7 linked regions of the Homo sapiens genome follow. The protein of the gene in region 1 purifies or fractionates together with the protein of each later gene. This does not show direct contact. Each region holds a gene or a part of one and is shown in the gene's direction. Other genes may lie near its edges.

The links.
Region 2: the proteins of ZDHHC23 (region 1) and RALB purify together in Homo sapiens (affinity purification with mass spectrometry; one large-scale study listed by BioGRID and IntAct). This does not show direct contact.
Region 3: the proteins of ZDHHC23 (region 1) and UBTD2 purify together in Homo sapiens (affinity purification with mass spectrometry; one large-scale study listed by BioGRID and IntAct). This does not show direct contact.
Region 4: the proteins of ZDHHC23 (region 1) and TBL1X purify together in Homo sapiens (affinity purification with mass spectrometry, with the first as the bait; one large-scale study listed by BioGRID). This does not show direct contact.
Region 5: the proteins of ZDHHC23 (region 1) and ETF1 purify together in Homo sapiens (affinity purification with mass spectrometry, with the first as the bait; one large-scale study listed by BioGRID). This does not show direct contact.
Region 6: the proteins of ZDHHC23 (region 1) and CPNE8 purify together in Homo sapiens (affinity purification with mass spectrometry; one large-scale study listed by BioGRID and IntAct). This does not show direct contact.
Region 7: the proteins of ZDHHC23 (region 1) and RNF144A purify together in Homo sapiens (affinity purification with western blotting; one study listed by BioGRID). This does not show direct contact.

What each region holds. Positions count from the first base shown.
Region 1 is NC_000003.12:113,958,013-113,960,942, forward strand, and holds part of ZDHHC23 (palmitoyltransferase ZDHHC23), read left to right. Parts: intron 1-350; coding exon 351-618; 3' UTR 619-1,508; coding exon of another isoform or gene 1,509-1,531; 3' UTR 1,532-2,707; coding exon of another isoform or gene 2,708-2,721; 3' UTR 2,722-2,930. UniProt on the Homo sapiens protein: Palmitoyltransferase that could catalyze the addition of palmitate onto various protein substrates and be involved in a variety of cellular processes.
Region 2 is NC_000002.12:120,287,352-120,290,851, forward strand, and holds part of RALB (ras-related protein Ral-B), read left to right. Parts: intron 1-2,228; coding exon 2,229-2,406; intron 2,407-3,500. UniProt on the Homo sapiens protein: Multifunctional GTPase involved in a variety of cellular processes including gene expression, cell migration, cell proliferation, oncogenic transformation and membrane trafficking.
Region 3 is NC_000005.10:172,235,265-172,238,764, reverse strand, and holds part of UBTD2 (ubiquitin domain-containing protein 2), read left to right. Parts: intron 1-3,500.
Region 4 is NC_000023.11:9,468,058-9,471,557, forward strand, and holds part of TBL1X (F-box-like/WD repeat-containing protein TBL1X), read left to right. Parts: intron 1-3,500. UniProt on the Homo sapiens protein: F-box-like protein involved in the recruitment of the ubiquitin/19S proteasome complex to nuclear receptor-regulated transcription units. Plays an essential role in transcription activation mediated by nuclear receptors.
Region 5 is NC_000005.10:138,508,916-138,512,236, reverse strand, and holds part of ETF1 (eukaryotic peptide chain release factor subunit 1), read left to right. Parts: intron 1-632; coding exon 633-762; intron 763-1,036; coding exon 1,037-1,192; intron 1,193-1,607; coding exon 1,608-1,672; intron 1,673-3,321. UniProt on the Homo sapiens protein: Component of the eRF1-eRF3-GTP ternary complex, a ternary complex that mediates translation termination in response to the termination codons. The eRF1-eRF3-GTP complex binds to a stop codon in the ribosomal A-site.
Region 6 is NC_000012.12:38,895,592-38,899,091, reverse strand, and holds part of CPNE8 (copine-8), read left to right. Parts: intron 1-3,500. UniProt on the Homo sapiens protein: Probable calcium-dependent phospholipid-binding protein that may play a role in calcium-mediated intracellular processes.
Region 7 is NC_000002.12:7,021,912-7,025,411, forward strand, and holds part of RNF144A (E3 ubiquitin-protein ligase RNF144A), read left to right. Parts: intron 1-2,457; coding exon 2,458-2,605; intron 2,606-3,500. UniProt on the Homo sapiens protein: E3 ubiquitin-protein ligase which accepts ubiquitin from E2 ubiquitin-conjugating enzymes UBE2L3 and UBE2L6 in the form of a thioester and then directly transfers the ubiquitin to targeted substrates.

The sequences.
Region 1 (2,930 bases):
TCATGAGTTAGATGTAATTTACGAATTACTTGTTTATTTAACAAACAGGTGTTGAACGCTGTTATGTCAGGCAGCGTGCTGGGTGTGTGGAGGGTACAAAATGCAAAAAACAGTCCCTGCTATTCTAGTGTAATATACTAGAAAATAGGCACCAGTAATTATAGAATAAACACACACATTCTCCTACTTAAGCAGGTTATTGGCATTCTGAGTATCTTCCAGTTCGGAGGGTTGGGGAAGATGCCAAAGTCTTTAGTAATAAGTAAAAAAATGTGTAAAACGTGAGAATGATGACAGTTTTCTGAATTTGACAAAAACGGCAGCCCTGACAGCCTTTTTCCCTCTCCTAGCTCGGCTCTGTCCTTCACCTGCGTGTGGTACTCTGTGATCATCACAGCAGGCATGGCCTACATCTTCCTGATCCAGCTGATCAACATCAGCTACAATGTGACTGAGCGGGAAGTCCAGCAGGCCCTCCGACAGAAGACTGGGCGCCGGCTCCTCTGCGGGCTCATCGTGGACACAGGCCAGTACAATAGGGGCTTCCTGCGGAACTGGCACCAGTTCTCCACCCTGGGCACACGTGCATTCCACCACCCTGCCGAGGACATTGTCTGAAGTGCCTTCTATGTGGCTCTCTGAGGGATGATGGCTCCTCCTTCCGTCTCCCTTCCATTTTACACTTCAGTGTCCATTTCTATCCCCAGTTTCTTAAAGGCATTATAGGGCCATGCTCAGGTTTAGAGACTGGAGTGGGAAGAAGTTAATTTTTCTGACGCCACAACTTAAGAGACTTTTATACTGAGGCAGTAAAAGTAGAGCCATTCCTTTCCAGTCACCTTTTTAATTGACTCAGTTGCCTGAACTTGAGAAGGATGTGGATTGCTAATGCACAAATTGATAGAAGCAATTCCCATCCATTAGTATGGAGGAAAGAGTGTTGGATTAGGATAGTTTCTAGTCCCTCTTTCGATTCTTAATAGCCATGTGACCCCTAGCTGAGTCACTTTCCCAAGTCTCAGGGTCATCTGCAAAGTGGGGTACTGATGCCTGCCCTGGCTACCTCACAGAGCCGTCATGAGGGTCACGTGAGGGAAGATGGATGTGGAAAGCACTAAAAAACAACTCAAGAGCCATGGAAATACAAAGTATTAGGAAAATATTATGATGGAAGAAAAACGTTTATAGTCTAGAATATTGAAGCCAATATTATTAGGGTAATCAGTTTTCAGCATATACCTTGTTGTACAGTTATGAGAATTTCTCCTTCTTATTAGACATGAACTACTCAAACAGAGAAGATGACCAGATGGATTGATGCTAAGTTGTCTCATCTTGAAAAGACAGTTGACAACAGTTATAAAGATAATTATTGCTAGTGTAATGTAGTGTGGCCATGAGTTTAGGTGATGAGTTCTTCTATTTATATTTTATAAATTCTGCTTGGGTTTCTTATAAATAACTCCAACAGGCATTCATGTGTTTTTCCTCTTCCCATGTTTCACCAGGTAAGGTGCTAGCACACTTGTGACTGTGGCTGGAAGAGGAGAACAGACACTCCTGTGGGGATGCTTTACTCTCTTTTCTGGTAGGAAGGCTGAGTAACATCACGGGCTCGATTATTTTCTTCATGTATTTCAAATGCTGTCAGTTATAGCACTAAATTGTGAAAATCAGCCTTCTGGCATTCACATTATTCTGGTATGAACTTTGAGGAGTTGAGTGACATCTTCCCACTTAACTTGCACATTAATTCTCAATTACCCCTCCCTAAATAACAGTATCTCACTAAGAGAGAAGAAACAGGGTATATGTGGTTTCCACTATTAATGGATTACTGTTCTTCCCTGGCTCTTCCGACAATAACAAGTTGTTTCTTTAATCATATCTTAAAACCGAAAATGTATAAAAGATTAAATATTTATGTACAATGGGTTGTTCTACTATAGAATTAAGATGAGGGAATTTCAGATGAGGAAAATACCCTTTTGAAATGTTAGTTTTGAACATGTACTGTTGTGCAATCCCAAAGATAATTCATGACTCCTTAAATTTGCCTTGGCTTATAGCTTAATATAGGGAAAATATTGCCAGCGTTTTCAGTCATTCTGTGCATGCTGCTTTAAGCAAGAGATTTATATTTGTTGAGAGGAAATATTGCTACTTCCTGCACTTCCACCCTCTGCAGCCAGCACCGTCCCTACTGTTGCCATTAATTGGAGCTGTCCTTAAGATGGTCACCATATTCTTATTCAGGCTGTTGTCATTTTCCCCAGAGATGGTTTGTTTAACGAATGATAGGCTCTGTGCCTGGGGATGTTAGCAGACTCTGGGGTTTGTACAGTGATGCCTTCTCCCTGGCCCAGAGCTGAATATTCATCTAGAATTAAAGTTGGATTTGATATAACAAATTTCTTTCTATACAGGTTTTACATAAGAGAGACAGTAATAATGTCAAGGATAGCCTGTGTGGGCAGAAATTGGTAGTCGTGCTTTTGAATGTCAGCTGTAGAGCCAACTCTGATTATCTAGCCATTGATCATACAAATTGATAGAAACATTAGTCAGTAATTTTAGCTTCTTGCCAAATTGTTCACAACATCTAAATGTAATGTGATGTGATGAAGATAAGTAGTACAAAGAGACCAAAATAATTTGGGAGAATTAGGAATGATGACAATTTTTTTTAACAACTTACCTCTAATAGGGTTACTTGGATGAGCCAACTCCGCTTCCTTCCCATGGATAGGAAGGGACTCTGTGTATTATTCAGGTTTATTGGCACGAAGATACTTGTTTTAAGTTCCTTGAGAACCCATGATGGACAGTTGACAGAATGCTTAAACCTGTCAAAAGATGAGTGATCTTGTGTGGGAAAAGCCTTCCCAGGCGTCTGTACCGAAAGGAGCAGCAAACAAGGGGCTAATCCA
Region 2 (3,500 bases), on another chromosome or scaffold:
TGCAGTGACTAGTTAAGTGACTATGACTCATTATGAGAAGTTCTGTTAATTTTTAGACATTTCAGACCTTCCTAAGGGCTGCTCTGTTTGAATGTAGCCCATGTATTTATAATTGTTTGCATCTGCGTAGTCCTGTTTTTAATGCCTCATAGAGGGTAAAACAGGACAGATGCACACACTCTCTTCTTTTCTTCCCTGTCCCGAGCCTTTTGATTTCCTGTTGTTCTGTGACTTACTTAGAAGGGAAGTGGGCAGGAGAGTTCTCTGCAGAGGATATGGAGAAATACAGGTATTTCAAGTGCTCCTTGTCCTCTCCTCAGTCACCACACATGCACAGATAGCACTCGGGCGTTCTCACAGAGTTGGAGCAGGGCTCCCCTCAATGTGGAAAAGGGTTTTGGTTGTTAGGTGGAAAGAGAGATCCTTAGAAGAAAAAGGACAGATGAATACCTAAAACCAGAAAGAAGGGGAAGTTGACCTCTGCGTAGGTTTCTCATGTTGTTGGGAACAGAAGAATGCAGGTCAATTATCTGAGCCCTGTGGCTAAACTCAAGTCACTTTACTTCATGTCTGTTAGCAGTTTTAAAACAGCATTTGTGTACTATCTTCCAAATAGAAAGGCCCCAATATAAAATGACATGTGAATATGCTGTCTTCCTTGAAACTTTTTCTGGAAAATATTTTATGAACTAAGATAAGTTCTGTCATAAGAGACCAGAACTTGGTACTCCCATTTTTGGATCGATATGTTTATCAATGAGGTAATTTTGTGTGCCCCTGCAAGACTAATGAGCCAGAAAGCTATCAGTTTTTATTGTTCATAGTTTATAATGATCACATGACTTCAAATGTATCATGTTCTTTGACCCCAGTTCAAATGTAGGCTATAACAAGGCTACACAAAGCCAATTTCAAGCATCTTTTCATCTTTTTTAGTTTGTCTTAAAATATTTGATGTCTGGCACTTAAATTGACTACATGAAAATTTTAGTTTTTTTTTTTGTTTTTTTTTTTGTAGATACAAGGTCTCCCTATGTTGCCCAGGCTGGTCTTGAACTCCTGGGCTCAAGTGTTCCTCCCTCCTCAGGCTCCCAGAGTGCTGGCATTACAGATGTGAGCCACCACGCCTAGAAAATATTTTTATTATTGTGAAATGTTACCCTATACCATATAAAAATCAATACAGATCTCTACAAAATACATTTTTGAAGGGGACTCTTTTTAGAATGTATTGGCATATAAAAGTAGAAATATTCTCATGGGACCAAAATAATGGAAATGGGGTATTTAATTTTTTTAAATATTTAGTTTTGATTAGTACTTTCAGATAGCTGATAATTTTTAGTAGACGTAAAATTTAATATGCTACGAGTAATGGTATTTTTGTAGAAGACACTTTTGAAGTACTTTTCCATAGGGCTTGTCGTATTTCCTTTCATTTTTTTCACTTTGTAGTAGAAAAATGGTACGTATTGGAATGTGATTACTGCCTAACATATCTGTCTCGATTCTGTGGCCTATAACATTACTGTGTCTGCATGGAAACTGGGGATGGGATGACATACTTGTCGTGTACACATGCAGATCTAATCAAAACTGAAGTTTCAAAACAATACAATATTCACCTTTCCTACTTGAGATTCCCTTGGATATTTCTGATCTGGTCAGTTCTGTTCTATAATCTATTTCACTGCAGGGGGGAGAAACTGCTGGTTGCGACCCACTAGATTGGTTTTGTGATCCACTAATAGGCTGCCACCTTCCATATAGAAAACACTGGATTTCATAGCTTTTATGTCACAAACAAATATTTTCAGGGGAATTAAGCATTTTATGGAGATAGTTCCCTTAGCTTGTTTTTATTGCAGAGATTGACCATTTTTCTTCTTTTTGTTTTTTTTTTTGTGTGTGCATAAGTTGGGGACCCTGTTGTGACGTAAAATCCTGGGCTCCTATCCAGACACTTCTGTAAGACTGAGCCCAGAAATCTGCATTTGTGATGAGCATCCCAGGGGATTCTGATGTGGGCAAACTGAGAAGCAGACTTGGAAAACACTTGTCTTGCTCATGACTGCCTCTAGGGAGTGCTTTCTCAGAACATGCCCTAAATCTAGTGATTTTTTTTTTTCCTTCTGCCTTAGGAAAGCCTTTTATTTTAGATGGGTTCACAAAACCAGGGTTCGTTCTTTAGTTTTTTTAGCTGCTGTATTTTTGGTGTAACACCTTAGGGAACAGATTCTCCGTGTGAAGGCTGAAGAAGATAAAATTCCACTGCTCGTCGTGGGAAACAAGTCTGACCTAGAGGAGCGGAGGCAGGTGCCTGTGGAGGAGGCCAGGAGTAAAGCCGAAGAGTGGGGCGTGCAGTACGTGGAGACGTCAGCGAAGACCCGGGCCAACGTGGACAAGGTAGGCGTGAATTCTGTGTATTTCTCAGAAACAGACCTGAGAAACAGCAGAATGGAGGCATCTCATCTGCTGGGTTTTAGGGAACCATTTATGAAAACTAGGTGAAGATTCTGATTCCTATGAATGTCTAAGCCATTATCATGATTATAATGAGAAACATTGAGAGGATGTCACCTTGTATTTCAGACAACTCACAGAACCTTTTACTTTGTCATGAGGCTTCATTAGAGTATGCTTAATGTGTTCTTTTGGGTTTTTCTTTTTTGAGACAAAGTCTCACTGTGACACCAGGCTGGAGTGGTGTGATCTCAGTTCACTGCAACCTCTGCCTCCTGGGCTCAAGCAATCCTCCTACCTCAGCCTCCCAAGTAGCTGGGACTACAGGTGTGCACCACCACACTGGCTGTTTTTTGTGGAGATGGGGTTTCACCATGTTGCCCAGGGTGGTCTCAAATTCCTGGGCTCAAGTGATCTGCCTGCCTCAGCCTCCCAAAGTGCTGGGATTACAGGTGTGAGCCACCACACCCGGCGGACTATGCTTACTGTTGGTGTGGTCCTGGGAAGGATGGTGGGACGAGGCCATTGGTTTGTGAAGGCTGGGCTGGAGGGATGGACGTCATTAGCTTCTGTGTGTGCTCTCACCTTCCACAGCCTTGCTCTTCAGGAGCAGGGTGGGCGGGCCTGGCTGCTTCTAGGAGGTTCCCCTGGAGGTGCCCTTGAAAGATACGTGGAGCTTCTTGATTTTGCTCTCATTGAGTTATTGGTCAGATTTGTTCTTTTCACCTTACTGTTCACTGACAGAGCCACAGTGTTCCATCTTTGTAGTGTAGTCTCTAAATAGTATTTGCTCTCAGAACTCAAATCTCTGGGATCTCTTTTTTTTTTTTATCTCTTATCCCATCCCAGCATACTTTCTCATTCAAATCTCTGAAGCTAATAAAAGGGTGACCTTGAGTGACAATGATGAATGCTGACAATTTGAAAATCCACCTATCAGGGATTGCTATTGTTAGGCCTTTTTTCTTTTTAAAATTAAAGTTCAAGGTGGTTGCCACACAGCTAAAATTTTAACGCTGTGCCTTAAAGATGAGGCT
Region 3 (3,500 bases), on another chromosome or scaffold:
AACAGGAAAACAATTATAATCATACTTAACTTCAGAATTGATTGTTTTTTACCAATGTCAAAATGAGTTTTTGGTAGAATGCTTTAAATTATGTAGTAAAAATATTTAAAATTATGTGTTATTTAGATCTGAGAAACAAGCCTTACTTGGGTTTTCTGTGTGTTAGATCTGTTTATTTGTTACAGAGTGGGAAGAAGTGTTTAAAGATTACAAGGAAAGATAAAGAGTGGGTGAATATGATTAAGAGGTTTCTGAGAAAAAGATGACTTTTGGACACGTTTTGAAGTAAATGTGGATTGATGGGGGAAAGGATATTTTCTGAAATAGATTGTGTGGTTTTTTAAGATTAGATTGCTTTATTAATTTTTTATTTCTCATATGTTAATTCATAGTGCACTAAAGATGGTTGGTTACCTGCAGTTTAAGGATAGAGAAGCAGAAATTTGGGGAATAAAAGATGTTTCCTGTCTTTAAATTCTTCACTGTTAGAGCATGGTACCTAGTCCTATATGCTATGTATGATTACCAAGCATCTCTCTTTTGGTATCAGCAGTCAGAAGATGTGTGAAGCAGATAAAACTGAAAGTTTAAGAGCATAAAATGAAATCTAGTTGAGTATGTATATATTCTACATCTTACAAAAATGTTTGGCTTGGTACAAACATGAGGTACTTAGCTGCCAGGCTGATAATCTATGTCCAACTACTGCATTTTCAGAAATACAGGTTTGTGGCACCACCTGAACTCAAAGGATAAGATTTGGTGAACAAATGCCTAGCAAGTGTACTCTGATAAGGCACAGGAAGTGCATGACAATCAGGGACATTTCTTTAACATTTAAGGAAGGGATTGGGAAGTTATGAAAAGAAGAAAGACAGCCTGTATATTTTTGCCAAAGGACTTAAAGATGTTATTTCATATAGTACCTCTAAGTTCATTTTTACTTATTTAGCAAACATTTATTTGCAGTTTTATTGTATATCATGCATTATTATGAGTGGTTTATGAATATGAACTTAAGTCCTCTTAACAAACCTAAATATTTTCATGTTTTCACGAGAGGATAGTTCAAATGCTTTTGCTAAATGCTAATTTTTTTCCCAGTTATTTATTTAACAAAGGTTAGTCATTTAGTTTAACATGAAGCTTCAAGCCTCAGATTTTGTAGTGAAAATTCTGCACTGCTCTGTGGTTTCACTAAAGTAATTATGTTACAAAGATTTAATCATTTTTTAACAGTGGACATTCTATAGACAGATATTCTATATTATGTTTATAATACAGGCAGAAATAGGCAAATAAAAGTAATCTTCCTTCATGTCACAAATTACCGTGAAACTTTTGACAGCATGTAGATTTGAAAATGCATTGGGGGCCTGTCGCAGTGGCTCATGCCTGTAATTCCAGCACTTTGGGAGGCTGAGGCGGGCGGATCATGAAGTCAAGAAATTGAAACTATCCTGGCCAATATGGTGAAACCCCGTCTCTACTAAAAATACAAAAATTAGCTGGGCATGGTGGCGCGGGCCTGTAGTCCCAGCTACTCGAGAGGCTGAGGCAGGAGAATCGCTTGAACCCAGGAGGCGGAGGTTGCAGTGAGTCGGGTTGCACCAGTGCACTCCAGCCTTGGCGACAGAGCAAGACTCTGTCTCAAGTATATGAATAAAATTTAAAAATTAAAGAAAATGCATTTGGAATGATTTTCCTTAAGCAACATAAACGCATCATCTGTTCTTTTTGTGGGACTTTGTTCATCTATGCTTAGTACAAACGGAGAGAGGTGAAATGAACCTACCTCACATTTGTAAGGAAGGTGTTTTACAATTTTTCCAAGGTACTTTGTACCCTTATTATGATTGTTTTTCTGTTGGCTTCCTCTTTTCAAAGTCCTCTTCCTTTCATTTGCTTTAGTTTTAGGTCCTGAGATTCTTCTGTAGAGGTTTTGTTGTTTTTGTCCATGCTTTGTAATTCTCTCAGAATGACAGGAAAAATTATACTGAGTTATCTCTCATGCATTTAATACATATGAGGCCAGATAATTCTGTAGAAATACTCAGACCCAAAACTTTATTCAGATAAATATCTTACTGAGTCTACCTGCTTACTGTGCCATCTTCCACTTCCTGGTCAGTAAGCTGAGTGTTGTCTGTAAACTGTCTCTAACTCATCTAAATGATAATGTAGCAGAAAATAAAATCAACCTTGCATTCCATCGTGTTGGTGCAATCAGTGGGTTGTGGTTATCAGACCAGATTCTGAACATCTTCTAGAGAATTATGCTCTAGCTGCATTGTCTGTATTATTTGGAAGAGGTAGGGAAAAATCATTAGTATAGACTGTGTTTCTCGCATTTGAATTAAATGTAATAGGCACATCTGTAGTGTTACTCCCAGTAGACACTCAGTACATATTTGTTGATTAAATAAAGAGACTTGGATTCTGTTTCCAGCTCTGCTACTAAATGGATGGGTTTCCTATTCTGCTTCCTCACCCTTTCAGAACTCACCTGTTTTGCATTTCACTAGGACAAGTTAGAGGGCAAAAAGTATTTGAGTTAATGCTGAGTGTTTTAAGTGGAAAACAGCTAGTCTTTTGGTGTGCCACCCTGAGGGGAGAGGACAGAAGAGACCTGACCTGGCAGTCTTTATTGAGAATATAGCCTGGAGAGTAGAGATAGCCCAGGGTCTGGAGTCATTTTATTTTCTGTTTTGCATAGTCCAAATTTCATCTGGCCCTGGGCCAATGAGGGAGTAGTCAATTTCATGGATGCTTTAGAACCAGTTTGAGAGTGATTTCTTTAAAATTGGTATTCTTTCTGCAATTAAATATAGAACATTGAATTTTGACACACACCCTCTCTCCTTCCCACTCGCTGTGTCATTTATTTCCCACCCACTCTTTTCCAACACTCTTCTTATCTTTTCATCCAGCTTCAATTTTCTTTCTATCTTCTATCCCATCTATCAAACTATTCCCTATCTATAGCACTGTATAATCTTACAGAGCCATAAATAAGAATGGCTCTGTAGGTCAGTATGACCCATGGAAATAGATCACAGATAATACACCAGATGGTTATCTGGGTGCAAGGATGCTGCATCAGGCTTATTCCAGCGCTACTACTACATAACATTGTCTAAGGGGAGATGCTGCCACTTGCCCTCTGTTTTCTTCTTCTCTTGGGTTGAAACTAGGGTAGGGTATCATAGTTCTTCTGCTCCTTGTGGTTCGGAGCTAATCCCTTGGCCTAGCATCAAAGATTATCTCTTTTACTCCCAGTTCCTCAAAAAAACTAAAGTACTGATTCTACCCTTTGTAAATTAGTTCCTGTTTGAGTTCCAGAGAAAGGTATTTACAGTTCCTTGACTAAAGTCCAGAGAGTAGAATGCTAGAGGAAGCATTCCTCTAATCAGTTTGTTCATGATTCTGGTGGTTTGGCTCTTCTTTCTCTGGGCACTGAAAAGCAATCTTTTACCTCTTTGGATTTTCTCAGTTCCTAC
Region 4 (3,500 bases), on another chromosome or scaffold:
AATTGGAAACCGTTACAAATGGAATTGGAACAAATTTAAAGTTAAGATGGAAGAGAGAATATGTTGAGTTTTCAGAGGAAGTCGGGTACTGCTTCCTTTTCTTGTCTAGGTTTGTTCTTGTCCGATGGGATCAGAGAGATTTGAGATGGGGCATGATAGGCGGCGGGTTCAGGAGAAAGGGAAGCTTTAGAAATGAAGGTAGAAAAGATGCTTGCTTATTGGAACAGTATTTTCAACGTTGAGCTCTGGAATGTTGCAGCCAACTAATGGTTCTCATTTGGGACAGTTTTGTCCCCCACTTTTGAAGGGAGCATTTGCCAATGTCTGGAGACATTTCCCTTCCTGCAACTGTTAAATTAGCAAACAGGTTGAGCCAGCTGGGTGTGGACCTGCATTTTCCTCGTGGAGGCCCTCTTCCAAGTGTCAGTAGGAAAAGGGCTCCCAGAGTGTGGTCCTGCTGCGGGACCTTGGCCCCCACGTCCAAGTGAGCCCCAGAGGTGCCCCAAGCCCTGCCTGGTCATGGGGAATCTGGGCTCCCGCTGAACTTGGGCGCTGGGGACAGCTATGAGGGAAACCTGGTTTGCAGCTAGCTTGCCGTGCACTGACTGGAGCTTTGGGCAAATCAGTGAACTTCTCTAACATTAATTTTCTCATTGAGAGAGGAGGTGGGTAGGAGTATATATATATATATGTAATTATATATATAGGGGTCGGGTAGAGGGAGAGAGAGATTTCCCAGGCTCCTTGTATTAAAGGAGATAGAGTTATTATATTTCTCATTTAGTTTTTATTTATTTGTTTATTTTGAGACAGTGCAATTATTATAGCTAGCTGCAGCCTCAACCTTCTGGGCTTAAGCAATTCTCCTGCCTCAGCCTCCTAAGTAGCTGGGAGTACCAAATGCGCACTACCATACCTGGCAATTTTTTTATTTTTATTTTTAGTAGACACAGGCTCTCACTGTGTTGCCCAGGCTGCTCTCAAACTCCTGGGCTCCAGTGATCCTTCCTCCTTGACCTCCCCAAGTGTTGAGATTACAGGTGTGAGCCACTTTACTCAGTCGACCGACATAGAATTATTATAATGCTTGGAGCCTAACATGCCTTTTTTGTTTGTTTGTTTGTTTTTTCTGAGACGAAGTCTCTCTCACAGCCCAGGCTGGAGTGCAGTGGTGCGATCTCGGCTCACTCTGCCTCCCGGGTTCAAGCGATTCTCCTGCCTCGGCCTCCTGAGTAGCTGGGATTACAGGCATGCTCCACCACACCCGGCTGATTTTTGTATTTTTAGTAGAGGTGGGGTTTCACCATGTTGGCCAGGCTGGGCTCGAACTTCTGACCTCAGGCGACCCTCCCGCCTCGGCCTCCCAAAGTGCTGGGCTTATGGGCATGAGCCATCGCGCCCGGCTAGCCTAACATGCTTATAGTTTCCTGTTTTCTGAAGTTGGGAATTGGGTCTGGAAAGGTATCACCATCAGTCACGATGGTGTCTAGTAGTTTGCTTTGTTTTTTTCCTTATCTTTTCCCTCTTACATTTTAGGGCTGTATCTATATAATTTTATTATTTAAATTACCATATGGTAAGTTTGTCTCTTTGGGTGCATTATGAGTCTTGACACATGCATAGATTGGTGTGACCACCATCATCATCAGGAGAGAGAACAATCTCCTCAGCCCAGAGATGTTCATGGCTCTGTCTCCCACAGTTCCTCCACAGTCACCCCCCCCAGCCCCGAATCTGGGGCACCCAGCCATCTGCTCTGCTCTGGAAGTCTTGGGGATCCCATCTGAATGTAACACATGGTGGAATGCCTTAGGTGAATCCATCCGCTCTTCCAGTACCACCTTTGCCTCCTCTCTCTGATGACACATGAACTTCATGCCTTTGTGTGCTTTGGCCAACCGCTTTTCTTAGAACAGCACATTTTGCACTGTAGATGTTATCACAAGCAAGGAAAAAACAGCTTTGCTCCTTAATGTAAGAAACCACAGTGGAAAAACATCAGGTGTGTTGTTGAGGCTGCTAAAGCTTTGCTCCTTTTTAAAATTTTTTAAAAATTTTTCTGGATACGTAGGTGTATATATTTATGGGGTGCATTAGATATTTTGATATAGTCGTGCAGTGTATAATCACATCATGGAGAATGGGGGTATCCATTCCCTCAAGCACTTATTCTTTGTGTTACAAACAATCCAATTATACTCTTTTAGTTATTTGCTCTTTTTTCTTTTATTTTGAGACGGAGTCTCACTATGTCGCCCAGGGTAGAGTGCGGTGGCGCGATCTCCGCCCGCAAGTTCAAGCGATTCTCCTCCTCAGCCTCCGGAGAAGCTGGGACTAGAGGCATGTGCCACCACACCTGGCTAATTTTTTTGTATTTTTAGTAGAGATGGGTTTCACCATGTTGGTCAAGCTGGTCTCAAACTCCTGACCTCAGGTGATCCACCTGCTTAGCCTCCCAAAGTGCTGGGATTACAGGCGTAAGCCAGCACGCTCGGCCTATTTATTTCCTCTTTGTTCTATGCCAGTTAGTTCTTGATGCCTCATTGTTTCAGATGGGACATTTTCTAATGTCGTGTTTTTGTTTTTGTTTTTTTGAGACAGAATTTCATTGGTGTTTCCCAGGTTGGAGTGCAGTGGCATGATCTCTCCTCACTGCAACCTCCGCTTCCCGGGATCAAGCAATTCTCCTGCCTCAGCCTCCCGAGTAGCTGGGATTACAGGCATGCACCACCATGCCCGGCTAATTTTGTATTTTTAGTAGAGATGGCATTTCACCATGTTGGTCAGGCTGGTCTCGAACTCCTGACTTCAGATGATCCACTCGCCTCGGCCTCCCAAACTACTGGAATTACAGGTGTGAGCAACCATGCCCGACCTCTGATGTCCTTTTAGAGGATGTTACCCTCACCTTTATTGCACAGTCCTACCAAAAGGTACTTCATATGTGAAATGTATCAGAAGGTTATAGTCATGGCTTTAGTTTAAAAACAGGATACATGTTCATTAAGGACCTTTGCCGTTTTCCCAATGGGTTAATCACGTAAATATAAAATAGGCTAAAAATATCAAGTTGTTTTTGCCTTTGTTGTAGAAATAAAAAAATGAATTCCTACATCTGTGTTTCTATGGAGCTGCTAACCTGTGTTTTACTCTGGGCCATATGTCGCTTTCTGTGATCTCATGACGTGGCATGTTTTCTAATATAATCCTTGTCCTGGCATTTTGGTGACTTTTGTCCTGCCTGAGGTGGTCTACCTGGTTGTGTGAAGTCACAGAACCTGTGCATGTCCTACCGTGTAGAGTTAAAGGGCTGGATGAGTGGCCTCAAGCCTTTTCCTCCCTCCCAGGTGTGAAGATTTGGTTTGGAAGATGGACCCTGCTTCAAGGTCTGGGAGGCCATGTTTTTTTCAGACTGGTTAAGGATGACGGTTTTATGTTAACTAAACATTGGGATCAAGTGACAGTTGTTTATGTCCGGTGCCTAGAGTATCAGTTTTCCC
Region 5 (3,321 bases), on another chromosome or scaffold:
TATATATATATTTTTTTTTTTTTTTTTTTTTTTTTTTTTGAGACTGGGTCTGGCTATCTTGCCTAGGCTGGAGTGCAGTGGCAATCATGGCTCACTGCAGCCTCGATCTCCCAGGCTTAAGTGATCCTCCCAGCTCAGCCTCCCAAGTAGCTGGGACTACAGGGATGTGTCACCATGCCCAACTAATTTTTGTACTTTTTGGTAGAGACAGGGTTTCACCATGTTGCCTAGGCTGGTCTCAGAATTCCTGGACTCAAGCTGTCTGCCTCTCCTAGCTTCCCAAAGTGCTGGGATTATAGGTGTGAGCCACCCTCCCCAGCCCGTCTTAACCTCTACTACCTTATTTGGCAGGAGCCAGTGGTCCCCCCTTTCCTCCACAATAACTTATTTTTGTTTGCACTTAATGAGTTGTCCTATAGTAGGTCTAATAAAATGTGTGATATAATTGGCAGTGCTGTTCACTTTAAGAGCAGCTTTTGATTAAATTGGGCTCCTTCCCCATATTTAGACTTCAGTGATCATAATGCTGAGCTTTGCATACCATTAAGAGTTAGTGGGTTTGAGTAAAGGTGTTTTAATAATATTTTAAATAAGTACCAGTAAGTACTAATAATATTTTTTTTGTGTGTTAGAGGTTACAATCAAAAGTTTTAAAATTAGTTGATATATCCTATGGTGGTGAAAATGGATTCAACCAAGCTATTGAGTTATCTACTGAAGTCCTCTCCAACGTGAAATTCATTCAAGAGAAGAAATTAATAGGTATCGGTGAAATGCAACTACTTATTCTGTGAAATGTTTTCGTGTGTGTGTGTGTGTGTGTGTGTGTGTGTATGTGTGTGTGTGTATGTACGTGATTGTATGTATGAGACAAGGTACCAAAAATGTAAAAAGGAATATTTAGTATTTTTATTAACTCTTTTGCCTCAGTAAAAGCATTATTTTTTATCTTCTTTAGTCATTAGGTCGAATAGGTGTGTTTGTATCTACTAGGGAAACTTTAATATATATCCTGTTGACTGATCCCTAATCGTAGGACGATACTTTGATGAAATCAGCCAGGACACGGGCAAGTACTGTTTTGGCGTTGAAGATACACTAAAGGCTTTGGAAATGGGAGCTGTAGAAATTCTAATAGTCTATGAAAATCTGGATATAATGAGATATGTTCTTCATTGCCAAGGCACAGAAGGTATGAGAATTAGAAAATAAGGTTGCTATTTGTTACTGAGCCAGGAAGCCTGGGGTGGAGATTTGGGAGGGATGGCTGATTTCAGGAGCAATCAGAAGGTAGATCTACCCATTGTTCCCCAGTCCTTCAGTCTGTAGCACATTCCTGCATAGATTTTTCTGCTTGAACTGTTTAACGTCTGCTTAAGATTGTTACATCTGCTGAGGACCAGGACTATATCTTGAACATCTCTGATGTTCCTTATGGTTGAAGCATTGTACCTAGTAGACACTCAGTGTATGCTAACATGTTTATGGAAAAAATGTTGAGAGATTGAGTCCCTGAGCCCTTTTCTCATCTAACCTCATCTTATGGAGCTTACACAGATTAGTATATGAGAGCCAGGTTAACACATTTTTTCCTCCTAATACTACAGAGGAGAAAATTCTCTATCTAACTCCAGAGCAAGAAAAGGATAAATCTCATTTCACAGACAAAGAGGTATGTGATTATTTTCTTGGTTTGATGATACGTGCAAGCGTAAATCCGTGTGTTAGAGTACTGGCTGTGTAGAGGGTGAGCTTTGGGAAACCAAACCTTATACTAATTGGGGGTGCTGTGGGAGGTGGTCATCTATCTGCCACATACGAATCTGATTTCAGGGAAGGAGCTGCAGCTTTTTTTTTTTTTTTTTTTTTTTTTTTTTTTGAGACAAGGTCTTGCTCTGTTGCCCAAGCTGGAGTGCAGTGGCATGATCTCGGCTCGCTGCAACCTCCACCTCCTGGGCTCAAGTGATCCTCTTGCCTCAGCCTCTCTGGTAGCTGGGACTACAGGCATACACCACCACGCCCAACTAATTTTTGAATTTTTTGTAGAGAGGCGTTTTCACCATGTTGCCCTGGGCTGGTCTCAAACTCCTGAGCTCAAGCAATCCACTTACCTCGGCCTCCCAAGTGGTGGGATTACAGGTGTGAGCCACCATGACCGGTCTTTTTTTTTTTTTCTTTGAGATAGGGTCCTGGTCTGTCACCCAGGCTGGATTCAGTGGCACAATCATAGCTCACTATAACCTCGAACCCCTGGGCTCAGGCAATCCTTCTGCCTCAGTCTACTGAGTAGCCAGGAGTACAGGCACAAGCCCTCATTCCCTTTTTTTTTTTTTTTTTTTTTTGAGGTGGAGTTTGCTCTTGTCACCCAGGCTGGAGTGCAGTGGTGTGATCTCGGCTCACTGCAACCTCCACCTCCCGAGTTCAAGCAATTCTCCTGCCTCAGCCTCCCGAGTAGATGGGACTACAGGCGCCCGCCACCACGCCTGACTAATTTTTGTATTTTTAGTAGAGACTGGGTTTCATCATGTTGGCCAGGCTGGTCTCGAACTCCTGACCTCAGGTGATCCACCTGCCTTAGCCTCCCAAAATGCTGGGATTACAGGCGTGAGCCACCATGCCAGGCAGCCTAATTTTTTTTATAGAAATGGGGTCTTGCTGTGTTCACCAGGCTGGTCTTGAACTCCTGGGCCCAAGTGATCCTCCTACATTGGTTTTCCAGAGTGGTGAGATTACAGACGTGACCCACCATGCCTGGCCTGGTTTTTGTTTGTTTGTTTGTTTTTGTCTTTGTTTTTAAGTAGTTAAGCAATCAGGAAAACATTTCATTATCCTTGAAATTTAATAGGGAGGAAAATGTAATTTACATAATGCCTCTCCTGCACTGTGAAACCTGTGCTGCTTTCTTCACTTGATCAGCTCTTCCACTGCAGTGGCTTCTCTGGTTTGCTCTAAGTGCATCACAACAGTTGAAAGTATGACCCTCCCGTATGAGATAGGTTTAAATGATAGCTTCCTCAAATTCTGGTTTGGAGAGCTTTGTTCTCTACGAGGCCACTCCCAAAAGCAGTCCTGGAATGTCTCTTCTGAGCCATTGAATGGGTGCTGCTTAGAGACACTACAACAGCCTGACTTCTAGAGTCAACAGTAGGAATCATAAGCTGAATACCCACTGAGTTTTTGTGTTGGTATTTCATAGCTGAGGGTAGAGCCTGAGGAGAAGTGTTGTTTGAAATAATCCGAATTTCTCTGCTGATATCCATTAGGTTATCAAAACCAGAGATGACTTACAGAGCTTTACACACAGACATGCCTATAAATGGG
Region 6 (3,500 bases), on another chromosome or scaffold:
CTCTACTGGAATAAGTGGGGTTGTATGATTTTATAATCCATAAAAGTTGTGATAGCAGGTATATTGCAGTTAGGAACTTAGAGACTTTTAAATTTCTCCCTCTCCTTTTCATGTGGTTCTCTCTACACTTTTATTCTTCTCTTACTTTGAAGTTGTATTTTTCTTTCCCTCTTTCTCCATCCACTGGTGGCATATCCTTTGCAAGTTTACATGTTACAAGTCCAGCTACACTTAGTGATTAACTGACCATCTGCGAAAGCAAAGTTAGATTCCAAGAGAGAGTGTCTGACCCTTTTTGGAGTTGGCTGTCTGAGGTAGATACCTGTGCTGTTCTAATGATCTGCGGTGAAAGGAATCAAAGCATTCAAACACAACAGTTGGAGGCTCTACCTTAGTCCACATTGGTTCATCTCTTAGCATACTTTACCTTTCTTTAGTCAGACAAAAAATTTGGAGATACTATGTAAATAGATTTTCAAGTGATGTTGTTAGTTGATAAATTAAGTTATATAAGCTAGGGATATTAGACTGCCTGTTGTGCTGTTAATGAGCCATATGACAGGTAAACAGAGGGTAAAGTTGTTGTAGACCGTAACATCCTATTCTGTCTCTGCAGCTCTTGAGATCCTGTGGTTCAAGATTGTAGTCACCCTGTAGTGCCTTTTTTGATCATATTTAGGTTTGTCTTAGCCCCAGAGTTTCAGTAAAATTTGTCCTGGGAACTTTCTGAACTGTGGCGTTGAAGTCTTAATGTGAGAGTTGCCCTGGTATATTTTTTTTTCAGAGAAATACCTTACTTAACATTGTTGTTCCACCAGTATTTTGGTCTGCCTGTGTTTTTTAGCATTTGGGGCCTGAGGGGTTTTAAAACAGCCCTGGTATGTGGAGAATGCTAATCTAGAAGCAGTTTAAAGGACAGGATCCCACAGGAGAGGGTGGTAATAGCTGTGCTCCTTTAGGTCTGTTATTTGTGTTGTAGCAGGCAGAAGCCTATATCCCCTATTTGAGTTTACTCAAGACTGAGAAGAAATACAATTCCTCTCAAAGAGATTTCATCCAGTTCTTAGCCTGTTTGAGAGCCAGTTTTGCTTAGCGCTGAAGAACGTGGGTGTAGGGCTAGATTAGCTCTGCCACTTAGTATCTTTGAAACATCTGTTCCTCAGTTTCCTCATCTGTAAAGTGGGGATAATAATAGCCCCCAGTTCTTATATTTGCTTTGAGGATTAAATAAGTTAATACATGTAAGTGAGATAAAACACTGCTTGTGACATTAGTTAAGCACTCAATGATTACAAAGAGATAATAAAAAAATTAAAATCCTTCGCTGTTGCGTCAAACTATGAGCAAATGAGTTCATTTTTGTCTCATGTATAGCATCACATTTATATTCTCTCTGTGTATATTAATATATACACACATATAATATATAATACATAATACAATATGTAATATATTAATAGTGTGTATTAATATAGAATATAATTATATATTCTATACAATATTTTTCCTGTACTTTTCCCTTAATATTATATCATGAATATGTTGTTGTTATTAGTTTTTGGAAATATAACCTTCCATGTCTGTGCAGTATTCTATTATATGGTTGTACTATGTTTATTTAACTTAACCCTTGTTTTCCAAAATTTATTTCAAAAAGTTGCTATTCAAAACAGTGTTAAAAATGAGTATTCTCCATCACAAACATCTAACATCTCTGGTTACTTTTTTTTCCTGGGGATAGTTTTCTAGAACTGAAATGATTAATAAGCTATCTTCTCAAAGGGATTTTGGTAGCTTGTTTTGGTTACTTCCATCCCATTCCTATTTAAATACGCAGAATCAAGGCTAAGCTACTGGCTGCACTTTTCTAAATACTTTTATTACCATAAGAATGTTGCATTTAGAGATTAATGAGAATTTGAGGCAGCAGAGTATAGCAGCAAGAAAATGGAATTAGAAATCAGACAGATGTCTTTAAATCTCATTTTTATCCCTTTTTGGAATGTTATTTTGGGTAACCTGTTTCAACTTTTGGAACCTCATTTCCTAATCTGTAACATAGAAATTATTTAAAAACCAAAATTTCAAGGTTGTTGGATGAGTAAATGAAATAAAGTCTGTACAATGCCCAGCCTGTCACAAGAAAAGCACTAACTGGCTATTAGTCTTATCCCAGGTTCTTCAGCATTTTACTGTGTGGCACACAGCAACATAGAAGAAGGTATCTGTACTTTGGAAAAATTTATAGTCAATTTGGGGAGCCACAGAAACATAGAACCAAGGTGACAGTGATAAAGCTGCATGTTATCCCATGCTGATTAATTCAATGTGGAGAGAGTGTGGAATAAAACAGTCGTTAGAATAGTGTGGATTTGTAAATGCACACTCAGTTTCTACAGATTCCACCCCATAGGCCCACTTCTGCCAAGACACAATCAGTCATGTGGGATTTGACAGGTAGGAGGTAGTCTGCTATAATAACCAAGTTTTAGAACAAAAGAACATTCTTGTATCTGCTCAATAAAGTCAACGGGCTGATATTTAAGACAGCTGTTTTGTGTTGGGCATGATAAAACAGATACTGCTGTAGTTGCCAATACAGGCTGAGGTAAGGCAAGTAGTTATTGCCTGTAATAAAATAGGATGTATTTAAAAGGTGCCTGACCCAGGGACCAATGATGTTCACTCCCTGATACACAATACCTTAATATTGGCAAACTTAATGACAACATTCAGTGTTAGTGCCTCTCCAGCCAGGACCATTAGCTACCAGACATTCTTGTTCAAATTGTGAGGGTTTTTGTCAGGTTTATTCTGTGAAGAATAATGTTGCAGACCTTCTGAGGGAATCATCAGCTGATTTTCTGAAACTCTGAAGAAACAAAATATCACTGATAGTCCCCAGCAAATATTTCTATTTATTAGACAGTAAACGAATTCAAATATAAGCTATTTTAATGAAGCCAAGAAACATGCAACTTTTGGATATTTGCCATCTATTTTCTTTAAATTAATCTCAAAATCTAACTCTTTGTCAGACAATGTATAAAGTGGTTAATGTGGGCTAATTCATTCAATCCTTGCAATTCTGAAAAGAGGTGATGTTATGTCCTGTTTTACAAGTGAAGAAATTGAGGTTTAGAGAGAGTATAAGTAATTTGGTTTAAGTCACGTATCTAGTAAGTGGCAAAGTTGAGTTCCTATCCATATATGTCTAATTCCTAAGCATAAGCTTATGACCATTAGCTATATTATGTTGTTCTTCCATAAATTCTTTATTGTCGGCTTGAAGAGTGGAGCTCTTTTCTGTCAATACCAGTGTGTTAGTAACTAAAAGAAATTATAAAGCTTAGGAGATGCAATTATAATAGATCATATCAACACTACTCTACCACAAAGGATATATTTCTCTGAGGATGCAAAACACAGAATGCTTTCCTGTTTTTCTGTTCCCTACTGGTGAGAGCTTTGAGTAGAGCAATTCATAGGAGTGGCATAAA
Region 7 (3,500 bases), on another chromosome or scaffold:
ATTCTAGTCTCATTTAAATTATTGTCCAAAGATGATCTAAATCAAAATTCAGAAATCTCATTTTGTGGAAATTTTTAAATCAGAAGATGTCACATAAAAACTGGAATTTCTGGCTTCTCTGGGAAATCCGAATCCTAAGCCTCTCCGAGGCTGCCTCCCCATGCTGGCAGCCAGCGTAGCAGAGCCCCAGCTCTTGCTGGAGGCGCCTCCTGGGCCAAAGCCCCACAGTCCTCACTACTCCTTGTCCCCTGGAACTGAGGCTGCCTGTCAGCTGCCATTTATAACTGAGAAGACACTAAGCTATTTTTTGTATTGGAGGGTTTGTTGTTGTTGTTGTTTTTGGTTAAATCTTCTCCTCAACCATGTTTTTATCCAGCCCCTGACCACTTCACTCATTAGCATCACCTGCGCACCTCTTCAAGCTGCTGGGCCACGTGTAGATTGTGATTAAACTGTCCAAACTCCTCTCTGCTTTTATAATTTGAGTTTACAGTAAATGTTGTTAGTAATAATTTTAAATCCAATTCAGATACTAAGAAATATTTGAAAACCATTGTCTATTCCATGCAAAATTTTATGCATAGCACAGTACACCAGAACTTTCATATTTTAACGGTTTTCATTTTGAAATGTCTCCCCAGGAGACACTGTACACGCTGTTCCTGCCGTTTCTTCCAAAATCAGCTTGTGAGTCACATGAGAAAATTGGTTTCTTAGCTTTAAGGTCACACCTGGCTTTCAAACCAAAACAATGTTATCTAACCTAAAACCCAACCTTGATCACCAGATCCGGTGTCTCATGACTTCCAGCTTTTTGCAAAATCAAAGTCATTCTCAGAAGGAGGCCAGGCCTAAGGTTTACTCGGAGCTGGCTCTGTGCTGGATCCCTCTGGAGACATTTGCACATATGCTATCTCGTTTGCTCCTTGCAACAACCTTAGTTCATTCTTTATCACATTCTGCATGACCAGGTTGGTCTGCAGTTTGCTTTTAAATTGGAAGCATTTGAGCTAGTGACAGTTGTGTTATCTTTCAGTAACAGTTGTTAATAATAACTACTGTTTATTGAGTGCCTGGTACTTATGTGCTGGATTTTGTGCTTAACATGTTAACATGTGCAACCTCTGTAATCCTCACAACCGTCTGTAGAGATCGATGCTATTAGCCTTATTCATCTGGTTTGCAGATGAGACACGTAACACATAAATCGCACAGCTAGGATCTGTCTGTCTCAAGACTCTGTGCTCCTAATTAGGAGGACATACTGCTTCTCTCATTATTTCTTACTCTGTTGCCTTCTACTAATGGACCAAACAGTCACGTTCAGTTGGAATGTGCACCCCAAGTGGAGGATTGTTCACTGCCAATCATCAGACAGCTCCTACTAAAGTGAAACTACATTTAATGCTCATATTGACTGGAAGCTTGTGAGAGATCCTTCAGCCAGAATGCACTCAAAAAGCCAGAATTTGCTCAACTGCCGTGAATATATACCCATACATGTGTTAAATTCTGAAAAAGCTGCCCCGAGAAGGAGGGATGCATTTTCTCCTGCTGATGTTTGTTTGATATAGTGAGTTCCAACAATATAGCAAATGGACCCCCATAATCAGTGATAACTCCTCTTAACAGTTTATCATTTATTCCTTCAGATGCTTTTCTGAATATTCTTACCCATCTTTTAAAAATTAACAGCATGGGGTGAGTCATACCTAATGTCTGTGTTATCTTTCTTTAGCAACATTGAACTACTGCTACCCTTTATCAAGCACTTCATAAAAGCTGCACCCTGCGCTGTGCTCTTGGCACACGGAATCTTTTCTCATGGTCACACTGATGAGAAAACTAGGGCTTGGAGGGTTGCTCCACAGCTGGTTTGTAGCAGACCCAGCTCTGACCTCAGCTTAAAGCCCTTCTTGCTAACCCTGCAGACCTAGCCAACTTCTGAGGAAAACAATTCTGTAAGAAGAGCCAGGTGGATCTATCTCAAGTAAACAGTGTGTGTTTGTGTGTGTGTATTTGCAACATTTATTTATTTTTCTTATAACAGCAAAGTACATAAAATTTATATCAACCCTTTGGAAAGTAGACAGCTCTGTGAATAAGGATACAATATTTGACCTTAACACTATGATTCAGATACCTCCGTTATAATAAGCCTTTCGCTGTATTTTCTTTTGTTTGTATACATATATCTCTAAATTTAGATATGTGTTGATGTTGCTGTAATTTTTTAAAAATTTTTCCTAACTCAAAGTGGCTGATTCACAGTGTTCTGGTTAATTTTTTTTTTCTGGAGTTTCTGTTTCTTTGTTTTTTGGTTTTTGTTTTGTTTTTTCATTTAATACCAAGAAAACTCAGTCTGTGAAGTGGAGCCGATGCTTCCAGCATAGCCAGTGCTCCTGGGTCTCCCGTGGGATCCGTTTGTGCAGAGTCCTCACGGCGTTTCTCCCACAGTGCTGCTTTCAAAATGGAAGAAGATGACGCGCCCATCAAGCGCTGCCCCAAGTGCAAAGTCTACATCGAGCGAGACGAAGGCTGCGCGCAGATGATGTGCAAGAACTGCAAGCACGCCTTCTGCTGGTACTGCCTGGAGTCTCTGGACGTGAGTACGGCCTTCAGCTTCACCTTGCGGCATTTAGCTTTGAGGTTTAGATTTGGAATGAGAAAAATAGACCAGCTGTTTCCTAAAGAGCTTGGTGCCTACTCCTGTGTAACAGTGAAGCAACACCGTTTGGTGTTTCTCCTGGGTTTGTGAAAACATTAACTCATGAGCGCCATGGGGACAGAAGCCTTTGTGACTCGTATAGTCCTGGGGTCTAAACACTTCATGCAGGTTCAGGATCCAGCCTGGGATTTAAAGGGGTTTTAGCATCTTAGGTTTTGTCTAAGCGGGGACTGTCATTGTCAGTTTGGGCTGCTGTGACATAATATCATAGATGAGGCAGGTTAAATGACAGACATTTATTCCTCATGGTTCTGGGGGCTGGAAATCCAAAATCAGGGTACACCAGATTTGGCTCCGGGGTTCCTGATCAGGACTCCTTCCTGGTGTTCAGGATAGTGAGGACAGACAGAAGTGGGGGCTGGGGGGCTGTTGGGCTTGGGGCCAGTCTTAAGACTTCATTGACACTCACATCATCTACAGGGCGGGAAAACGTGCAAGCCCTTTGCTCTCTGGCAGAATGGAAGTTCTGGTCTCATACGGCAGCCTTCTCCTAAGTATGCTCTGCTTCAGTGTTTCTCAAACACACCCTACCGTGTGTGCCTGCAAGAGCCATGTCCCTGACGGGAGGGCACAATCTCCCAGGCCCACACGTCTCTGGAGCTTTGAGGCCTGATGCACAGGTTGCTGCTATTTAGCTTCTCATTCTCCTTCCTTGCCCATATTAGGGCGTGGGCATCTTGCCAAAATGATGAAGCTATGATTTTAGTTTTAGAATAATTTATTGATGCATACTTTTTTAAGAACTATAATTAGGCCAGCCTCGGTGGCTCAC